Linked DNA regions of Homo sapiens: region 1 is linked to region 2. Evidence: fine-mapped expression QTL. Tissue or cell type: whole blood. Region 2 holds a variant in brackets; the other region holds the start of a gene. All regions are shown on one strand. Distances are from middle to middle.

Region 1 (8,094 bases), 130 kb before region 2:
GTCTCAAATATACTTCTCACATGCTAAAATTAGTGGGAAAAAACTTAATGAGAATTAGGAAAGTAGATACACTTAGAGTATCTTCCACAATTACAGACAGAAAAGGAATTTTATAGTGGAAAAGCCTGACAGATACCATCTTAATCAAGTGATCAGAACTATCACTAGTAATAACAAAAAGATCACGTGCCCTGGTAAGGTTCACAGAGAAGAATTCAACATTACTTCTGCAGTATTCCAGCCAAAAATGCATGTGCTAAATTTTAATCATAAAGAAACATCAGACAAACCCAGATTGAGGGACATTCTACAAAATAAATGTCTGTAACTTCAAAATTACCAAAGTCATGAAAGACAAAGAAAATCTAGGAAACTATTTCAAGTTAATGGAGAACAAAGAAATATAACAACTGAATGCAACACGTCATCCTAGATTGGATCCTGGACCAGAAGATATTTCTTTTCATTTTATATATATGATAGTAGTGGAACAATTGGCAAATTTTGAATAAGGTCTGTAGATTAGATAATAGTACCGTATCTGTGTTCATTTCTAGAGTCTGACAGTTATATTCCGGCTATGTGAGAAAATTTTTTTTTTTAAGTAAATATACATCAGTCAGGATTCTCCAGGGAAACAGAACGAATGGTAGATATTTTGATAGATAGTTTTATTATAAAAAATTGGCTTTTTGATTATGGAAGCTAATAAATCCCAAGATCCCCAAGATCTTCAGGGTAAGTTGGCAAGCTGGAGACCCAGGAGAACTGATGATATAGTTCCAGTCCAAGTTCAAAGGCCTGAGAACCAATGGTGTAGTTCCAGTCCAAAGGCCGAGTCTAAGACCCAGATGGAGCCAGTGTTTACTTCTGAGTCTGAAGGCTGAGAAAAGCCAATGTCCGGGTCTCAAAGCAGTCAGGCAGAAGGAAGTCTCTCTTACTCCGGAGTGGGTCAGTCTTTTGTTCTAGTCAAGCTTTCAACTGGTTGGATGGGACCCACCTATATTAGGGAGGGCAATTTACTCAGTCTCCAATTCAAATGTTAATCTCATTCAAAATACTCTCACAGAAGCACCCATATTTGGCCAAATATCTGAGCACCAATCCTCTAGAAGTTGGGACATTAACCATCACAGGCCGTGCGTGGTGGCTCACGCCTCTAATCCCAGCACTTTGGGAGGCTGAGGTGGGTGGATCACCTGAGGTCAGGAGTTTGAGACCAGCCTGGCCAACATGGTGAAACCCCCCTCTCCACTAAAAATACAAAAATTAGCCAGGCGCCATTGTCCACGCCTGTAATCCCAGCTACTCAGGAGGCGGAGGCACAAGAATCACTTGAACCCAGGAGACAGAGGTTGCAGTAAGCCAAGATTGCATCACTGCACTCCAGCCTGGGCGACAGAGTGAGACTCCATCTCAAAAAAAAAAAAAAAGTTAACCATCACAGGTAGAGTTTAATAGGCTTTATCTCTGAAACTTAGTCTCAAACAGTCCAGAAAATAATTATATATTTGTAGATAGGTACATACAAATAAAACAAACAGTGAATTGTTAATATTTGGGTAATCTAGGTATCAGGATAAAGGATATACAGGAATTATTTGAACTGTTTTTTTTAACTTTAGATGCACAAACCTTGTAATTATCCTTGACACTTTCCCTCCCACAACCAAGCCATTACCACACCCTGTAGGTTTTACTTTCCTAATATACATCCTGTAGCCACAATTTCTCTCCATTTCCACCACCACCACCACCACCTTGGTCCAAATCATCATCATCTCTCACCTAGACTGCTACAGTAACCTCCCAACTTGTCTCCCTGTTTCCACTCTTGCCTCCTCTACAATCCATTCTCCACCCTGAAGCCAGTGATCTTTGCAGAATACAAACTTAAAGTCAGCTAAATGCAATGCATGATCCTTGATTGGTTTCTGAAAATTAAACATTTATAATGTTTACTTAGACTGTGCTGCTATTACAAAATACCACTGACTGGGTAATTTATAAACAGAAATGTATTTTCTCACAGTTCTGGAGGCTGGGAAGTCCAAGATTACGGCACTGGCAGGTTTGGTATCTAGTGAAGGCCAGTTCCTCATAGATACGCCATCGAGGTGACCTTACATGGCAGAAGGGACAGAAGGGGCCAACTTACCCCCTCAAGCTCTTTCAAAAGGCGTTAGTCCATTCTTGAGGGTGGAGCCCTCATAGCCTTATTACCTCCTAAAGGCCCCACCACTTAATACCAACACCATGGATTAATTTTCAACATGAATTCTGGAGGAGACATATTCAAACTATAGTAGACACCAATGAGACAGTTGGGGAAATCTGAATATCAACTGTATGTGATTATAGTATTGTATGAATGTTAAATGTCTTGGATGTGGTAATGGTATTGTGGATATGTATGAAAATGTCCTTGTTCTTAGGAGATACACATTGAAAGTACATAGCAATTAAGTGTAAAGAATTTTGTGGGGCCAGGCGCAGTGGCTCACGCCTATAATCCCAGCATTTTGGGAGGCCGAGGCGGACTGATGACCTGAGTCAAGACCAGCCTGACCAACATGGAGAAACCCCGTCTCCACTAAAAACACAAAATTAGCCAGAGTGGTGGCGCACGCCTGTAATCCCAGCTACATGGGAGGCTGAGGCAAGCAAATCGCTTGAACCCAGGAGGCGGAGGTTGCTGTGAGCCAAGATCGCACCATTGCACTCCAGCCTAGGCAACAAGAGCGAAACTCCATCTCAAAAAAAAAAAAAAGAATTTTGTGGCTGGGTGCAGTGGCTCACGCCTGTAATCCCATCACTTTGGGAGGCTGAGGCAGGCAGATCACTTGAGGTCAGGAGTTCCAGAGCAGGAGGATCACTTGAGGTCAGGAGTTCCAGACCAGCCTGGCCAACATGGTGAAACCCCATCTCTACTAGAAATGCAAAAAAATTTAGCCAGGTATGGTGGCACCAGCCTGTAGTCCCAGCTACTCAGGAGGCTGAGGCAGGAGAATCACTTGAACCCAGAAGGTGGAGGTTGCAGTGGGCCAAGATGGCGCCACTGCACTCCAGTCTGGGCAACAGAGTGAGACTCTGTTTAAAAAAAAAAAAAAAAAGAATTTTGGGCCAGGCGCAGTGGCTCACGCCTGTAATCCCTGTAATCCTGGGTGGCCGAGGAGGGTGGATCACCTGAGGTTGGGAGTTCCAGACCAGCCTGATCAACATGGAGAAACCCCGTCTCTACTAAAAATACAAAATTAGCCGGGCATGTTGGCACATGCCTGTAATCCCAGCTAATCAGGAGGCTGAGGCAGGAGACTTGCTTGAACCCAGGAGGCAGAGGTTGCAGTGAGCCAAGATCACGCCATTGCACTCCAGCCTGGGCAAGAAGAGCAAAACTCCATCTCAAAAAAAAATAAATAAATAAGATTTCTGCACCTAACTCAAGTGATTCAGCAGAAATAATTATTATTATTTCATTATTATTATACACACATACATTAAAAGAGATACAAAGCCAAGTCTGGCAAAATCTTATCAGTGAACCTAGGTGAAGAGTGGATAAATGGGTTGCTCATTGTATTAATCTTGCAAATTTTCTGGAAGTTTTAATTTTTTTTAAAGGCTAGGGAAAACAGTGTATGTCATAGTTTAAATTTCTTGAGTGTGATAAGGTTATTGTGGTTATGTATGAGAATATCTTTGTTCTTAGGAGATACATATTGGAGTAGTTAGGGGTGAAATGTCATGCTATCTGCAACTTACTTTCAAATGGTTCATCCAAAAAAGCATATAAATATATTTTAAAGTATATGTAAAGTACTTAAATATATGAGTATATATGTACAAGTATAAAATAAATATAAATGCAAAAAATGGTGGGTCAAGTGAAAGGTAGAGGGTGTTGCTTTGAACTATTCAACTTTTCTGTGGCTTTGACATTTTTCAAAATGAGAAGTTGGGGAAAAACATTTAGAAATATGTAAATATATTAAGGATACAAAATAAAATTTAAATAATTTTACAAGTTAAGAATCATCCTGGAAAAATTACATCCTGTTACATCCCTGCTTAAAACCTCAGTAGCTTCCCACTACTTCTAGGATAAAGACAAAATTGCCTAACAAGGGCTACAAGGCCTGGGGTGGTCTGGCCCGTTCCTCTCCTCCTGGTACCCTACTCATCACCATCAGCTGCCCCCTAGGCTCCAACCACACATAACCACACCCTAACTACACCAGAAGGAAAGACTCCCTCAAAATTCTCTCTCCTCCTGTCCTTTACACATGCAGCTACCAAAGCCAAAACCTCACTATGAGGGACTGAGAAATGGATTCTCATGTTGTTTCTGCTGAACTGTTTCCCTAAATCTCGGAAATATTCTCTGCCCGCCTCCCATTCCACCTCTCCAACCCCGGCCAAGTCTGGGTAACTTGCCTCCTTAGCATCCTGTGTTTATCTCATCGTAGCACCTAGTACCCAGTATTGCAATTGTCCGCTCACTTGTTAGTCTTCAGTGCTCTGTTGTCTCCTTGAAAACAGGGCCTGACTTGACTCCCCAGTCCCCAGCACTAGTCTGGGGCACAGTAATTATGTATTCAATCAGACTTCCATTTTCTTGCATATAAAATAAAGGAGTTGGGCTGGATGATCTACAAGATCTATTGGCAGTAAAATAGATCTAATAATCCCAATCCCAACTGCGCGTGAATTCCCTTTTTCTTTGCATTGCTGGGTTCAGACTTTCTGACCACCTTACCAGTGGGGAGAATCCGAGACTACAGTTCCCATGAGCCCTCAGGGCACCACGTGGTGCCTGCCCGTGCTACCAACGCGCAGCGAGGACTCCATTTCCCAGCGTGCCTCAGGAAGGGCGCCAGGACTGCATTTTGCTCCGGAGCGTCCAGAGTCCTGGCCCTGAGCGGGAATCGCAGTGGCCGAGGCTGAGCGGCAGGTAGAAGGGGCGTCTCCGGGGCTTCACAGGGAACACAGGGGCTTCGGCCCAACCACAAGTACGCAGTTGCACATGCCCTACTTTTGCCCATTCTTTGCAAATCCCCTAAGGAACGAACGCGCCTCGCGTGCGGGCCTTTCTAATCTTCGCTTGTCCCTTCACTTCCACAGCTGGAGGTCGAATTCACCACGTCACGTAGAGAAAAGGGGCGGTGTCTCGGGTCTCCCCGTGTGGCATCAAGGCGGGCTCCCTATAGGAGCTGGTGTGGACGTCCGGGCGTGGGGTTAGGGCGGATGCGGGGATCGCGGGGCGGGTGTTGACATTGTGCTCTCACCAGGCGGATCGCCCCGACCCTCACTCCTGGCGTCTGAGTCTCTGGCGTAGCCCATGCTGAGTGGGCGGCTGGTCCTGGGTCTGGTCTCCATGGCTGGCCGCGTTTGTTTGTGCCAGGGCAGCGCGGGATCCGGGGCCATCGGTCCGGTGGAGGCCGCCATTCGCACGAAGTTGGAGGAGGCCCTGAGCCCCGAGGTGCTAGAGCTTCGCAACGAGAGCGGTGGCCACGCGGTCCCGCCTGGCAGTGAGACTCACTTCCGCGTGGCTGTGGTGAGCTCTCGTTTCGAGGGACTGAGCCCCCTACAACGACACCGGCTGGTCCACGCAGCGCTGGCCGAGGAGCTGGGAGGTCCGGTCCATGCGCTGGCCATCCAGGCACGGACCCCCGCCCAGTGGAGAGAGAACTCTCAGCTGGACACTAGCCCCCCATGCCTGGGTGGGAACAAGAAAACTCTAGGAACCCCCTGAACCCCAAGAGAGGGAGGACCAGGATCCGAATGGGCTGGGTGAGCACGAATTACCGAGGCCTTCCCTTTGATACAGTCCAGGATTTGTAAGGGATGAAGACCCCTGGGCCCCATTCTGTTGGGGTCCATACATACTCTCCGAAGATAGCAACTTGCTTCAGGTCAAAGTGAACCCGAGAAAAGAGAAGAATCACTCACTACTGCTCTTGCCCTGGACTATTCAGGAAGGGCAGCCCGGATGTTCCATGTTAAATCGTGACAGAATTGCACCAGACCTGATGAGTTGGAAACAATCCTATACATTAAAAGAAATTACACTATGAGGCTGTGTTCTTAATGGACTGCTGAATCAGTGCCACAGGTGTTCTTGGGAGAAGAAAGATACTTGTAGACTAGTCGGGAAGGGCTTTATGAGGGAAGTGATCTAGTTGGATCTTTAAAGGAAAGCACAAAATTAACCAGAAAGGAGAGGATAGGTGCTGCAGGCAGGGAGAAGAACCTGAGCAAAGACATAGACGCTGGACTGAGAAGTGAGTTAATGGACAAGACAGGGGATATAGGCAGGGACACATTTGAATTTCATCTTGAGGGGGGGAATGTTTGGCTTTTTTACAGCCTGTTCATTTCCAAAAAGTAGTATTTGTATTTGTTTAAAAGAAAAATGTTTTTAAAAACCACTAAAGCAGTGAAAAGAGGATAAGAACTAAGAAAATGATTACAGATGATGAAGAAACCTTTATATAGCCTTTTTTTTCTTTTCTTTTCTTTTCTTTTTTTTTTTTGAGATGGAGTTTCGCTCTTGTTGCCCAGGCTGCAGTGCAATGGCACGATCTCGGCTCACTGCCATCTCCGCCTCCTGGGTTCAAGCGATTCTTCTGCCTCAGCCTCCCCAGTAGCTGGGATTACAGGCATGCACCACCACACCCAGCTATTTTTTTGTATTTTTAGTAGAGATGGGGTTTCACCATGTTGACCAGGATGGTCTCAAACTCCTGACCTCAGGTGATCCTCCTGCCTCAGCCTCCCAAAATGCTGGGATTACAGGCGTGAGCCACTACCCGTAGCGTTTTTGTTTTTGTTTTTGTTTTTGAGATGGAGTCTCACTTTGTTGCCCAAGCTGGAGTGCAGTGTCGCGATCTCAGCTCACTGCAGCCTCCCTCCGCCTCCCAGGTTCAAGCAATTCTCCTGCCTCAGCCTCCCAAGTAGCTGGGACTAGAGGCTTGTGCCACCACACCCAGCTAATTTTTTGTATTTTATAGAGACAGGGTTTCACCATGTTGCCCAGGCTGGTCTTAGACTCCTGAGCTCAGGCACTCCGCCCACCTCAGCCTCCCAAGGTGCTAGGATTATAGGCGTAAGCCACCATGCCCCGCAATGTAGCCCTTTTTGAGCATTACAGATATTGTCATATTTCTGAGGGGAGCTCGAGTAATGTCTATAGAAGCAACTTTCCAATAATCTCAATGTGGAAATTATTAGAGAAAAAAACTTGGTTAACATATATCTTTTTTTTTTTTTTTTTTTTTTTTTTTGTGAGACGGAGTTTTGCTCTTGTTGACCAGACTGGAGTGCAATGGCCCAATCTCAGCTCACTACAACCTTCGCCTCCCAGGTTCAAGCGATTCTCCTGTCTCAGCCTCCCGAGTAGCTGGGATTACAGGTGCCTGCCACCATGCCCGGCTAATTTTTGTATTTTTAGTGGAGACGAGGTTTCATCATATTGGTCAGGCTGGTCTCAAACTCCTGACCTCAAGCAATCTGCCTGCATCGACCTCCCAAATTGCTGGGATTACATGCGTGAGCCACCACGCCCGGCCCGGTTAACATATATCTTGACCATTTCTAGCTAAAGAATTTAAGGTGCATGTGGTTGGGCAGTAGGGAGTCATTGACAAATTTTGAGTACAGACATGCCAGAGAGCATCTGGGGGCAGATGGATCTGGCAGTGATGTGTAAGTGAGTTGGCATGGGAGACTGGAGGAACAGAGATCAATCCAGAGTGAGGGTAGAACCCTGACTTACAAGTCATCTGTGGGAATGGAAAGGAAGGAGTTTATTTGAGAGCTACCATAAAATCAGAAAATGGTTTGATTGGAACAGAAATGGACTAGAGTGAGAGGGGAGTCAATGGTAACCCCAAGGCAGTGGTTTTCAGATTTTCTCAGGTAAGAACTCCCATGAGATTGTTTAAAATGAAGCTTCTGGCTGGGTGTGGTGGCTCACACCTGTAATCCCAGCAGTTTGGGAGGCCGTGGCGGGCGGATCGCCTGAGGTCAGGAGTTCGAGACCAGCTTGGGCAGCATGGTGAAACCCCATCTCTACTAAAAATACAAAAATTAGTT
Region 2 (8,103 bases):
ATTCACGTGGTTGGCACGATCCATCCCTAGGGGACTAAATGATTTCAGAGAGCTCATAGATTGCTCTGGGATCATTGTGTAACTGAGAAAGAAAAACTTGTTATTTAGAACCCAACCAGGCCAGGTGCAGTGGCTCACGCCTGTAATCCCAATACTTTGGGAAGCTGAAGCGGGAAGATCACTTGAGCCTAGGAGTTCAAGACCAACCTGGGCAATGTAGTGAGACACTGTCTCTACAAAATTTTTAAAATTAGCCAGGTATGTGCCTGCAGTCCTGGCTACTCAGGAGGCTGAGGAGAGAGGATCACTTGAGCCAGGGAGTTTGAGGCTGCAGTGAACTGAGATCGCATCACTACATTCCAACCTGGGTGACGGAGTGAAACCCTGTCTCAAAAACAAAACAACACAATCAACCCCAACTGTAGCTGCCTACTTTTAAGGTAGGTGATGTAATTCATATAGCAGGGAAAGAATTCTTCACACTGCCTCCTAATAGAATTGGAAGAAGGGAATGGCAGGCCAGGCGCAGTGGCTCACGCCTGTAATCCCAGCACTTTGGGAGGCTGAGGTGGGTGGATCATTTGAGGTCAGGAGTTCGAGACCAGCCTGAATAACATGGTGAAACCCTGTCTCTATTAAAAATACAAAGAATTAGCCAGGCATGGTGGCGCGCACCTGTAGTCCCAGCTATTCAGGAGACTGAAGCAGGAGAATCGCTTGAACTAGGGAGGTGGAGGTTGCAGTGAGCCAAGATCATGCCACTGCACTCCAGCCTGGGTGACAGAGCAAGACTCCATCTCAAAAAACAAACAAACAAAAAATTAAATATCTAGGTATATGCTGTATGGGCCTCTATTTGTACCCTTGCCCCAGACCCCACAAAGTTAGAGGTAGTCCTATTTAAAATTAAAACTGCTTGAGACTAGAGACTATTAACAGAGAACTACTTAAAGGAAAATATGTTTCTCTGCTATTTCTGAAAAACTTTGATTACAAACTTAGATTTTTATTTAAAGCTACTGATTTATCTTGAAAATTTTCTCTGAAAGCCAAATAGGCCCCTATCATATAATTATCTGTGTCTGAAATCACATTTCCCCCCAAAATGTTTGGTGCACCTAAATAACAACTGACACTTGTTGATTGCTTAGTTTCCAAACAGGGTGTGGATCTTTGACCCTAACTTTATCTGGCCCTGTTCTGGTCTCTGCTGGGGCAGCGCCTTCCACCTTTTCTCCTCTGGTTGGTTCAGTCTCCATCCCCTTACTTCTGTTGGCTAGACTTCTAATACGACAAAAGCAATTCATTTTTTGAGTACATAGTTTTAAATTTTTTCTGTTATTTTGAAGATTTTTTTAATAGCAAATACATTGGCCCTTTTCTATTTCTTTCTCTCAAAACACACACACCCCTAACAATTGTTTTTAAAATGAGTCAGATTTTTCCCCCTTCGGGTCATATACTTCTAGTAGGAAACATGTTCCATTTTGCTATATCAGACAGTATTTTGTTAAGGCTTTTGACGTCTGTTTTTTTCCAGTGGCGGTGAGGAAGAAGGTAGGCCAGGTCTGGGCAGGGTCCTAGAGGCTGGGAGGACTGGAGTCAGGTTTTCACACACAGCAGCTGGGAGGGAACAAAGCCAGAGGGTGAATGTAAAACTATATTTGGGGAGGTGTGGCAAAGGTTAATATTAATCTGGAAAAACGAGATCTTGTCATCTTACCAAGTTCAAGGGTCAAATTCAGAGCCAAAAATAGGAGATGAAGTCAGAGATCAGGAACTCAGTAAACCCAAGTCCAGTAGTTAAAGCAGATATGAGGTGAAAGGAACCAGTGCTACAGAGTGAAACAGGTGGAGCCCCAGAGCTCCCTGTATGGGATGAGTGAACCTGAACTAAGTCCGCATTGGATTTAATGAGAGAAGACACGACAGCACCAGCCCAGTGGAATCCAAGTTCTAGTGCTCAGTGAATACTTCTTGCATGATAAAATGGGTTTACTAATTAGTCAACAAGATTTATGAAGCATATATAAGATTCATTAAAATGTGCATATCACCAGCAAATTTAGCAGCTTTCCTAAAGAGAGGCAGAAGGGAGAAAAAAGGTGTGAATGTTAACATTTAAAATTCATTAACATTACAGATGCAGTGGTTACTCCAGACTTTCTCTTGCCACTGAAACAACATCTAATCCAGTCATTTAGAATACAGCTTCTTATTCCAACATGAAGAATAATCTAAACTCTCCCTTTCTCTCTCTCCTTAATCATTCTTCCTGCTTCCCAGCCTGAGCCTGGAACTTTTAATGGAAGTAATGGGTCAAGTCAAGACTAGTTCCACAGTCTTTAGCTGTGTCAAATACTGTAAAATCTCATGCTGGGCTGGGCATGGTGGCCCACACCAGTAATCCCAGCACTTTGGAAGGCTGAGGCAGGTGGATCACCTGAGGTCGGGAGTTCGAGACCAGCCTGGCCAACATGGTGAAACCCCGTCTCTACTAAAAATACAAAGATTAGCCAGGCGTGTTGGCGCATGCCTGTAATCCCAGTTACTCAGGAGGCTGAGGCAGGAGAATCGCTTGAAACCGGGAGGCAGAGGTTGTGGTGAGCCAAGATCGTGCCATTGCACTCCAGCCTGGGTGACAGAGCGAAACTCTCTACAAAAAAAAAAAAAAAAAAAAAAAAAAATAACTACATGCTGAAGGTCTGAGGCAGCTGATCTGGCTGAGAGAGCAACTCCAGCCGTTGGTAACTGGGATTGTTGAAAAGAGCCGTAACCACATGTGATCACATGTGCAGAGCACACACTTCACGGCTTCAGGGTGTGTTTCCCAGCCTAGCGGTAGTGCCTCACCTGGGAGCTCATTGGAAATGCAGACAGGAGACTTGTGGGCATCAAGAGACACCACAGGCCATCTAATGACATCACTATGTCTCTAAAACAGGCTTCTGCAAGCCACTACAACAAGTGGAAGTTTACCTGGGCCGATCAGTTAAGAGTCACTCTCCATTTACTTTTATTTAACTCTTTAGTATCCCACCAGATTTATCTTATATCCAATGGTATGTATTTTTAAGAACCCAAGAGAAAAAAGAAATATCTCAAAGTGCCCTATTTACTAAAGAGCCCAAGGAGTCTCTTTACCCAGCAGCAGCCACAGCAACCACAGCAACAAACAGCATTAGCATCCAGTAAGGTCATAGTGTTTGCCACCATTGTGGCAAGAGATTTATCACAATTAAATGATCACTGGCAGTGTAGAACTGGGTACTAGAAAAAACAGAAATCCCTCTCACCTGGTATATGTTCTGAAAGCAGAATTAAGAAGTATTGACTTCAGATGCACAAAGGTGAATCTTAGTCACTAGACGACCCAGAATAGCTTTTATCAAAAACATGAAAGGTAAGTGTTTCCAAGAATATGGAGAAAAGGGGACCCAGCCCACTGTTTGTGGGAATGTAAATTTGTACAACCATTTTGAAAAACAGTGTGGAGGTTCCTCAAAAAATAAATATAGAATTACCATAAAATCCAGCAATTCAACTTCTGAGTACATATCCAAAGAAATCGAAATCAGTGCATCAAAGAGATATACGCACTCCCATGTTTGTTGCAGCATTATTCACAATAGCCAAGACATAGAAGCAACCTAAATGTCCATCAGCATATAAACAGACACAGAAAATGTGGTATATATACACAGTGGAATACCAGAGAGCCTTGAAGAAGAAGGAAATCTTATTTACAACATGGATGAACCTGAAGGACATAGGCTAAGTGAAGTGAGTCAGGTACAGAAAGACAGATACCGTATAATCTCACTTATATGTGGAATCTAAAAAAGTTGAATTCATAGACACAGAGAGTAGAATGGTGGTTACCAGAGGCTGTGGTGCAGGGATAGAGAAAGCAGAGATGTTGGTCAAAGGATACAAAGTTTCAGTTACACAAAAAGAGTAAGTTTTAGAGATCTGTTGTGCAGCATGACGACCTTGGTTAATAATAAGGTTTTATATATTTCAAAATCGCTAAAAGAGTAGATTTCAAATGTTCTTGCCACACAAAAAAGGTAGGCTAGGTGATGGATATGTTAGTTAGCTTGATTTTAATCTTTCTACATGTATACATATATAAAAACATCACATTTTACCCTTATAAATATATAATCATTATTTGTCAATTTAAAAAGTTTTAAAGGTATTCCAGCTTCCTCCTGCATATGTTAATGAGTAATGACATAATTGAACAAGCACTTTAATTGGCAGCAGTACTATTACCTTCCTAATTTTGACACATCAGATAGTGGCCAGTGCTAAGGACATGAGAGACAATTATTTCTCAATAGAGTGCCACTATTTAGTTTATCAACAAAAACAATTTCTGAGCACTTATCTGCACAAGGTGGAATAAATATTCCATTCCACAAGTTAAATCTAGTTCCTCCTTAGCTTTTCTAAGAGCCTGTGATTTGTTTTAGATCACCAACTCTTAAGTCCTTTCAAATAAAGCCATTTTCATTTTTTGTTAAGAATGAGACCAGGGCATATAATAATGTCAAGGTAACAGTTTTTCTGGCAGGAGCTTGTTCCTGATTATC[G/A]CCTCTGCACTCCGGAATGAAGGATCTCACAGACTTATGAGGGGACATTAGCTTAAATAGGAAGAGAACAATAAAGAGGATCAGGGATTTGAGTACAAGGTGATAAAGCCTAGAAACAGATGGCTTGATGAAGAATGTTAAATAGGGTTAAAGATACTGATCTGCATGCTATTTTTAGTGTCCTTCTCAAAAACTGGAGAAATTAATATTTTAGGAGTTTAGCCTAAGATATACAACAAGAATTATAAATATATAAATACAGATATTGGAGAACAAATGCCTCAATAAATAGAACTAATAGCAGCTGCCATTTTAGAATGTGGTATATGTGTAGCACATGGAAAGCTAAAGAATTGATGGTTTCTCACTCAATCCTCTCAACAACGCTTTCTTTAAAAGTCTTCAGTGAAGTTTTAGAAAACACCACAATTAGCCGGGCGTGGTGGCTCACGCCTGTAATCCCAGCACTTTGGGAGGCCAAGGCGGGCGGATCTCTTGAGGTCAGGAGTTCAAGACCAGCCTGGCCAACATGGTGAAACCCCATCTCTACTAAAAATACAAAAATTAGCCAGGTGTGGTGGCACACATCTGTAGTCCCAGCTACTCGGGAGGCTGAGAGAGGAAAATCACTTGAACCCAGGAGGCAGAGGTTGCAGTGAGCTGAGATCACACCACTGCACTCCAGCCTGGGTGACAGAGTGAGACTCTGTCTCAAAAACAAAAACAAAACAAAACAAACAAAAAAACCCACCACAACCTTATCTGAACTGAGTTAGAGAAGATAAAATATAAGATAGGTCTCAGGGGCTGGGCGCGGTGCCTCATGCCTGTAATCCCAGCACTTTGGGAGACTGAGACAGGTGGATCACCTGAGGTCACGCGTTCGAGACCAGCCTAACCAACATGGAGAAACCCTGTCTCTACTAAAAATACAACTGGGCATGGTGGCACATGCCTGTAATCCCAGCTACTTGGGAGGCTGAAGCAGGAGAATCGCTTGAACCCAGGAGGCGGAGGTTGCAGTGAGCCGAGATCGTGCCATTGCACTCCAGCCTGGGCAACAAGAGCGAAACTCTGTTTCAAAAACAAGCAAACAAAACACACACACACACACACACACACACACACACACACACAAATAGACCTCAGGAAAGACTGAAACCCAGGGCTAAAATGTTTCCAGAATTCTCTGTAGCCTCTATTACAACTTCTTTCTGCATGTGAGCATTATTCTCTCCCACTACAGACTGACTTCTTCCACACCAGAGGGGAATATCAACTTCAGAGCCTCACATCTTACAGTGCTCACCACCAGAAAGGACCTAAGACTACCTTTCTCTGTGTGAATTCAAAAATCTGATGGAAAGGCTCTGATCAGACCATATTGGGTCAGGTGACCATCCTCAGACAAATACATTATGTCTAATATAGGGGATAGTGAAATATTTTGTTTGGGTCAGTTTTCTAGCCCTAGAGCAATTATTGTGGCAGGGAAATAAGCCCCCACATGAATTACACAACTGAAAAAAGAGATGTGGTCAGGTGCTCTGTTCATACTTGAGACAAAAGAGCAGAGGAGACACAGAGCTCTGATAGTCTGTTTGTCAGGTTGCAAGAAGGATCTGCAGAGCTCTGGAGCTTGAATGGCCTTGAGTGAGGGCACTTGGCGAACAGGACAAGTGACTACCAATATGAATTTTAGAAAATACAAGCATTCCTTGGAGATTCCTAGAATTTTATGGAGAAATAGGCCTTCCAGTGTTTTCCAAAGGGAGCAGGAAGGACTGAGAAAGTGCATGACCCTTCAGTTTAAGAACACTTCCTGGAAGGTGCATACAATATTTTGCTTACATCCATTGGCCAGAACTTGGATCAGAACATGATCACACTCAGCTGCAAAGGAGGCTGATATGAGCATTATTTATTCTGGGTGGCCATTTGCCAGGTTAAAATTAAAAATTCTTTTACTAAGAAAGAAGGCCAGATGGAAATTAGAAGAAAACTAGCAACATATATCATAGACCATGCAATGAATATTTATTTATTATTTTGTCTCATCATAACAGTACTTTTATTCTTTGGAGAGAATGGTTCTCTCCTTCTGCAACCATGTGATTTTGAAGGGACTTGCCTATAACAGTATCCCACTTCCCTGATGGTAGAGATAAGTTCCTAACCCAGCTTGTTTCAAGCATAATACCTCCGTCTGCCTTATCCTCAGTGATTTGTGCAAAGGTAACACATAGTCCAAATGTGACCTATGAGAGCCCTTTCCTGGGATTTTCTAACTGAATTTTTCTCGGGTTACAAGGTCATAAATATATAAGCCCAGGGCTACTTAAGGCTATAGTTGAGATACGGTGACAGCAACTTAAAAGAATAAAGCCAGTACGGAAAGAGAAAAGTGAAAAGTGAAGAGAGAGAAATGAGAAATTTCTGAATAATATCCAAGCTCTTGGTGCCAGTCATCCATAAAAATAAATCCACCCTTACCCTTTCTGCAGATTGGCCATATAAACCAATATGTCTCCGATTACTGCTTAAGCTCATTCCATCTAGGATTCTGTAATTTGCAATCAAAAGTATATTTATATTTAGAATTTATATAAATTGTAGAAATACTTAGAAATGAAATTTCTAAACAGTTAAAGCTATACTATATTCATAATCAGTGGAAGCCATTAATCATGTGATGTGTTCCTGCTAAATAGTCTCCAACTTTCAGCCTTCAGATAACGTAAATCAAAGGTATTACATTGTATTGTACTGTGTTGTGTTCTGTTGTGTTGTATTGGGCTGTATTATATCAGGTGATTCTGAACAATCACCTACCGAACCTAGCACCTGTTAACTAGGCTCTAGGGATATAAGATTATAGCACTATCTCTAACTTCAAGGTCCTCATCTTCTATAGGGAATACAGAGAGGTAATAAATAATTATAATACCATGCAGAAATATAAAAGGTAAAGCCGGGCACAGTGGCTCACACCTGTAATCCCAGCACTTTGGGAGGCTGAGGTGGGTGGATCACCTGACGTTAGGAGTTTGAGACCAGCCTGGCCAACGTGGTGACATCCCGTCTCTACTAAAACTACAAAAAATTAGCTGGGCATGGTAGTGCACACCTGTAGTCCCAGCTACTTGAGAGGCTGAGGCAGGAGAATCGGTTGAACCTAGAAGGCAGAGGCTACACTGAGCTGAGATCAGGCCGCTGCACTCCAACCTAGGCAACAGAGTGAGACTCCATCTCAAAAAATAAATAAATAAGTAAATAAGATAATCAATGGCACAAAAGCAGAAGTGATCAACTTGACATTTCTAACTTCATCTGCCAAAGAAGATTTCTTATAATAATCTGCTAGTGTCCTTTAGTGCTAAAAGGATAACTGCTAAAAAAAAAAAGTGTATTTTCTTAAAATTCCAAATTGGAAATATTTCTTTTCTTTATTATTTCCCTATGAAATAATTATATTCTATTCTATTTTATCCTGAGAGATTTTAAG

The links. PIP is the estimated chance that this variant, and not a neighbour inherited with it, causes the effect.
Region 1: BOLA1 starts here. The variant in region 2 is fine-mapped to the expression of BOLA1 in whole blood (INTERVAL, PIP above 0.99).

What each region holds. Positions count from the first base shown.
Region 1 is chr1:149,894,722-149,902,815 of GRCh38, forward strand. It overlaps BOLA1 (bolA family member 1), which reads left to right and starts at 4,847. Exons shown (of 2, transcript NM_016074.5): 1 at 4,847-4,951; 2 at 5,289-6,074. The coding sequence starts at 5,339. The coding sequence ends at 5,752. LOC124904412 (a long non-coding RNA gene) reads right to left here and starts at 4,827. Exons shown (of 2, transcript XR_007066597.1): 1 at 4,757-4,827; 2 at 655-1,000. RefSeq lists an enhancer at 4,881-4,940.
Region 2 is chr1:150,019,737-150,027,839 of GRCh38, forward strand. The region is part of intron 1 of LOC124904413 (a long non-coding RNA gene); the gene reads left to right. It also overlaps a transcript of OTUD7B not described here. Among named protein-coding and RNA genes, the nearest start is that of OTUD7B, 13 kb to the left of the region's middle. The variant G/A (reference allele first, on the strand shown) is at 4,599.